2 separate regions of the Homo sapiens genome follow, and region 2 is linked to region 1. The links come from fine-mapping of genetic effects on gene expression. A gene starts in region 1. The other region holds a variant in brackets. All regions are shown on one strand. Distances are between the middles of the regions.

Region 1 (2,920 bases):
GGTAGTTGGGAGAAGACGTGGGTCATGCTAAGCAAGGAAAACAAAACAAAAAACACCACAGGACAAACGAAAGAAAAGCAGAATTAAGGCAGCAGTAAAATATAGTAATCTGTAGCCGCTCTGAGAGAACAGCAATGAAATGGCCAATTCGGCCGGGCGCGGTGGCTCACGCCTGTAATCCCAACACTTTGGGAGGCCGAGGAGGGAGGATCATTTGAGGTCAGGAGTTTGAGACCAGCCTGGCCAACACGGTGAAACCCCGTCTCTACTAAAAATACAAAAATTAGCTAGGCGGTAGTGGCGCCTACCTGTAAACCCAGCTACTCAGAAGGCTGAGACAGGAGAAAAGCTTGAGCCTGGGAGGTGGACGTTGCGGTGAGCCGAGATCGTGCCAATGCACTCCAGCCTGGGCGACAGAGTGAGACTCTGTCTCAAAAAAAAAAAAAAAAAAAGAAAAAAGAAAAGGCCAATTCCTGAAGCCTTAACAGACGGCTGACTTAAGGTAACCATTTCTGGTGCACATTTCTATGCCAATTAAGTTAATTAAATGGCAAACATGAACACACCCTTACAGGTGAAAGTATGAAAGCAAAAGTTTATGCGAAGTTCTGGATCTCTTCCGGCTTTTCCTTATCAAATAATAATGTAGTTAGATGAATTTTATACTTTAGGAGAAAACAGGGTAGGGGCGGGGGACAGAAATCCTAAGAGTGGCCAAAGGATCTGCAGGAAGTATAAAGTGTAAACTTTTTGAAATCAAAGGGCTCAAGAGGAAGGTAAGAACAAAACAAAGGAAGTAATAACAAAATAAAGTAAAAGGGAAAAACGTCTAGCATCTAAAAACTGTTTTTAAAAAATTATTTCCTTTTCCTAGACACGTAAACAGTAGTAACTTGGCAAACAGGAACGGAGCAGAAGACAATCGAACAACTCCCTTTCCAAAACTCCAGCATTCCTTAGTCAGGCTTGGGACATTTCACAGGCAAGACTCCTCTCTGCACCACTGCCAGATGAATCTCTCAGAGGGACTGTCACTATCTCCCTTCCTCCCACTGCGGGAGAGAGGAAGCTGGGGATGCAGGGAGAAGAGGGGAGAAATGAGGGTTGGACAGCAAGCCTGAAGGTGGCCCACTCCGACACTTTGTCAAGAAAGGTCCGGATTCTGGATCCTGCAACTCCTTTTCCCACCCAATGTATGCAAAGCCAAGAGAGTGCCTCCCTGCAAGGGCCGGTCCTACACCTTCACTCGACTGTTTCGGGGGCACACTCAGAGGGACAGAAGGAATGAAGGACAGAAGAAACCAAAGGCATAACACTTGGGCAGATACGGCACAGACTAAGGAGAGGCGTGCCCTGTGAAAGTTCGGAACGGTGAACCCGTAGGCAACGTGCCCGCCCCACCAGCCACCTCAAACCATCTTTCCCCCGCCTTTTCCCAGGCGAGCCAGCTCCGCCCTCACCTTTCTTAGGGTAACTCGGTAGCTTCTAAGTCGAGGCTTATCCTTTCCGCCGCTCTCTGGAATCGCCTCAACCCTGGCAAAAACTGAGCGGAAACGCGACCCGGACCTTTTCCTTCTTCCCCTTCCCCCACGCACCTCGGCTGCTCGGGGGCGGGGAGCAACTGCAGCTGTCACAAATTCACACTGACCAACCGCCGAGGACAGTCGGACCGGCGACCTCTCAACCCAGCCTCCAGAACCAGAACCAAGAGCAGCGAAGCCGGAAGTGAGGAGACCGGAAGTAGCGTTGTCCCTGGCCCTGGACGGCCTCTCTCTCCCTCAATCCGGCCTTGCCCGGCCACGTCTCGGTGGTGTCAGCGCACCTCCCACGAGGATCCCTCCGCCCTTCTCCGGGAGGCGGGCTACGCCCCTCCCTCTGCTGCCCTAGCAACCACATCCGGGACTCCGGCGGTGTCGTTGCCCGGGTAATTTTCTGGCAGCGACCTAATGCGCGCGGGGCCAGAGGCACCGGCTAGAGCTGGGAGCTTGCGGAAGGGCGCCCCTGCCTGGTCTTGAGAGGTCGAAGGTCTCCAGGAGGCCTCCGCCTCCCTCTTTTTCATTCACACACCCTAGCCTCACACGTTAGGAGGACCCCCCCAACAGACCGTGAGCTGGTGCCGGGAGGGTGGAGGTAGATGTACCTCACCTCCACGCTACCACAGAAGAGCGAAAGCTGCTTTCTCAGCCACCGGAGAGCACGAAGAAGGTTATTCCAGTCCCGGGGGGAAGGTGGGGGTGGTAGGGAGAATGCGAAGATAAGGCAGCAGACGGAATGCGGGCGCTGCCTCGCGCTGCCCCCGTGCCTGGGGAGCCCTCTCCCTTCAGAAAGGCTAGACCCCCGGGCCCGGCATCCCTGAGCTCTTACTTGCTCTGGATTTGTGATCGCTTTTTGCTTTTTGCTCGCTCTCTCACAGTAGATTCCTTGATACTTTTCTTTCCGGCTCCTCTTTCTTTTTCCGGATGACCGAGCTCTGCTTTCTTTGCTTGCCCCATTACTTCTTAAATAGATCATTGTTCTGTCACGGAAACTGCTGAACAATTCGCTCTCTCAGAGCCCTTCGTAGTTTCCTAAACGGGGCCCCAACCTGCACTACTCTCCCCATCCCCAGAGCTCAGTGGTGCGAAAGCGTGGCTCCCCCGTGGCGCTAGATAGACCTGAAGTTCATTTACACACTGTACCATACAGTTGGTCCATCACAGAATATCCCTTCGAACTGCTGGACTGCTTTTCCTTTGACAGCTTTGAATGCTCATTTTTACTCCCATTTCACTTGTAGAAATGCGAAGGGTAACTGTGCACACGGCGAGATTTACCCTTCTTTAGACCGTACTTCTCAGCTGCCTTTACTTGTCACAGTAGCTGACAAGATATTTTTAATGACTAATGCCCAAAGGCAGAGCTCTACCTCTACAGATTTCCA
Region 2 (2,920 bases), 70 kb before region 1:
CAATTCTTCAAACTAGACAGAGACAGTTTTCTAAAATGTGAACCCAACTGAGACACTCCCATTTTTATAGCATTTAGTGGCTCTCCATTGCCTTTTAGGTAAAGACTAAACTCTTCAATATGGTTTTCAAGGTTTTGCAGGATCTACTATCTACTTATCTCTCTAGCCTCATTTCTCACACACCTGCCCTCACATTCTCCATTCCAACAACATGAATTTCCAGTTCTATGGTCTCACACTTCCTTCGGGTTGTTACAGTTGCTTCTGATGAGAATATTTTTCACCCTTTATCTGGCTAGGTCATCCTTCAGACCTCAGCTTATATAGTAATCACTCAGGTAATCTTTCCATGCTCCCACCAGTACTCAGACCATGCTATACTTGGCCTAGCACAACATTTTTCACATGGTATTAAAATTAATTTGTCTATATCCTCTCTTCCCATTCCGAAGACCATATGCTAAGATCAGGAAGCTTATCTATCTTGTTCACCACTTGTATTCTTGACATCTAGCAGAGTGTCTATTACTTCATTTGGCAAGAAATTTTCTCAGTAACATCTCATGCTTCAAAAGGGACAAAACCTTCCAAAGCATCTACATAATAAATTTTTTAAAGAAACAAACTAAAACACTTATGTTAAATGTTTGATGAATTCTGTTAATTTAAAATCTCCTTTGTTAGTTTAACAGTTAGCTGTCTATAAAAAGTATCTGCCAGAAGCAAAGCTATTATTACAACAGCCTCCACATCCCCAGTTCTGTAACACTATTAACCCCCCTTAAGTGGCCTCTCTGCTTCTCCACAATTATCTTGAGTTTTATAAAACTGATTATCTTCCAACATTCTACTTATCAATATTCTATTGTTAGAAGGCAGGGTCAGCATTTTCTAAACTCTCTATTGGTACTTCTAAACAACCAGTTCTCAAACCTTAATTTCAGTAGGAATCACCTGAGGATCCTGTTAAAAATGCAGATTGCTCTTAGCTGTGTGGTGATTCTCACTGAGTTGGAATGTGAAGCCCAGAAATCCGAATTTCAAAACAAGGAAATCAGGTGATTCTGATGCAGGCGATCCTTAGTCTATTTTGAGGAACTGTTGTAGAGAACTGCTTTCCATTCTTGTGCAACTCTGCCCCTACCCAACCCCCCCGTTTCCTGTGTGTCACCTTCCTCACTGCCCTCGTCCCCACCTCAACATTGTCATCTACCTTCTTTCCAGTCAATTTCAAATATTTATTGAAGACTTTGGCACATCTAGGGCTTCTGCTTTATCCCTAACTCTCACCATTAAACTGGGTGTTTCTAACCTTTTGCATGTTGGTGGGCACATTTTCAGGAAATGATTATAGATGTTCAGTTAGCAATTCCTTCCAAGCTGATATATTC[G/A]CTGTCTAGGCTGAAAGTTTTCACCGATCATTAAAAATACAGTCCACTAATGTTATGGTAGGTAGTAAGTTGCTATATTTTAAAATATAAATTGTAAAACACTTAAAATCTGTTCCATGAGCCTGCCTACCTATGCTGATGCAGAATGACAGGGGATAGTAATAATGATATGTAAAGGTATGTGATTTTATTTTCCCTCCGTATACTTGCAGAAATGCGTAAAATTGGTAATCTGGATCAGGTTTGGGAATCTGTAGTTGGACAACATGCCAAAAAAGTGTCAGGGCAGATAAAAGACATTTTAGACTTAGTATAACCCAATCTACACCTTAGTCTCAGATTTCATTAACATCTTCATTTCTAATGCCTTTCATCTTTCATACCCCATATTCCACTCAGGCAACCTAAACTCAAATTGCCACTCTTAGACCTTGTCATCACTTCGGAAGCAACACTTCTAGATTCTCACTTTAAATAAGTTTAATAACTCACTTTATGATCACAATATCCTCCTGTATCTTATTCCATCTAATCAAGAGAGTAAATCTAACATTTTTATTGATTTTTTTCCATTTACCACCATACACACACACACCTGCCTGCCACAGACACACAATTTCAATCTTCTTTTCTCCCTCTCTCCCATTCATTCAACAATATTTAACAAGAACTTACAAGTACCTTTTGGTGGTTCACTGCCTACCCTCTTGGCCTCACCCACTTAGTCTAGATTCTAAGTAGTTCAAAAGCTTGAATCATGTACCAACTTGCATCAAAGAAATACTGAATTCATTCACATACTATCACTGTGGAAATATTTATATGTATCTACATTCAAAATAATTCCTTCAAAAAATTTAAAAACGACATATTCCTAATAGCTTTTGTTTATAAATAACGACACACTCTCAGATTATAATTTAAGACAGATAAGCCTTCAACCTTTCATTATGAATTGTATTTTCAACAAAATTCCTCCAAGAAATAAAAAAAAACATATTACTAATAGCTTTTGTTTATAAATAAGGGCACACTCTCAGATTATAATTAAGACAGATAAGCCTTCAACCTTTCATTATGAATTGTATTTTCAACAGGACTCTCAATCCAGAATTAATTTAATGTATGTGTATATTAAAAATATACTTAAAATTTTAATTTGTAGTAATAGTATTAAAAGTATAGCCTATAGCTGAAAAGCAAACAGTATTAAAATGAATCTAGATTTGTATGGGTTAAACAATCCTTGAAAACCATTTGCCATACCTCTAAAAGGGATCAACATACATATTTGGTCAAAACTGGCTCTCTGAAAAAGCCCCCATCAAATCATTATTGCCATTGACCGAGCTACTACATTTTTTATGTGTGAGTAACGTGGAAACATTATATTGCATTCCTATATAGAATGGAGACAAACTGTAATCACATGCTATGAAAACCCTAGGGTAGGATGGCTGAAGGAGAAAAGATGTCAACTTTTAAGTCTATTTACTAGAATTCATTCTTTTATTGAGCAACTACTATGA

Alleles and levels. Positions count from the first base shown, and alleles are read on the strand shown. Sizes are in standard deviations (SD) of each study's normalised expression.
For the expression in cerebellum of the gene that starts at base 1,733 in region 1, allele G in region 2 goes with a lower level than allele A (large effect, 2.0 SD a copy in GTEx).

What was found. PIP is the estimated chance that this variant, and not a neighbour inherited with it, causes the effect.
Region 2: its variant is fine-mapped to the expression of ARFIP1 in cerebellum (GTEx, PIP above 0.99). The same link has a PIP of 0.9 or more in thyroid.

The regions. Positions count from the first base shown.
Region 1 is chr4:152,778,767-152,781,686 of GRCh38, reverse strand. ARFIP1 (ARF interacting protein 1) reads right to left here and starts at 1,733. Exons shown (of 9, transcript NM_001025595.3): 1 at 1,461-1,733. TIGD4 (tigger transposable element derived 4) reads left to right here and starts at 1,957. Exons shown (of 2, transcript NM_145720.4): 1 at 1,957-2,205. RefSeq lists enhancers at 1,456-1,505, 1,696-1,855, 2,306-2,515.
Region 2 is chr4:152,848,741-152,851,660 of GRCh38, reverse strand. All of the region lies in intron 2 of ARFIP1 (ARF interacting protein 1), which reads right to left. Among named protein-coding and RNA genes, the nearest start is that of ARFIP1, 70 kb to the right of the region's middle. RefSeq lists enhancers at 405-1,063, 950-1,244. The variant G/A (reference allele first, on the strand shown) is at 1,392.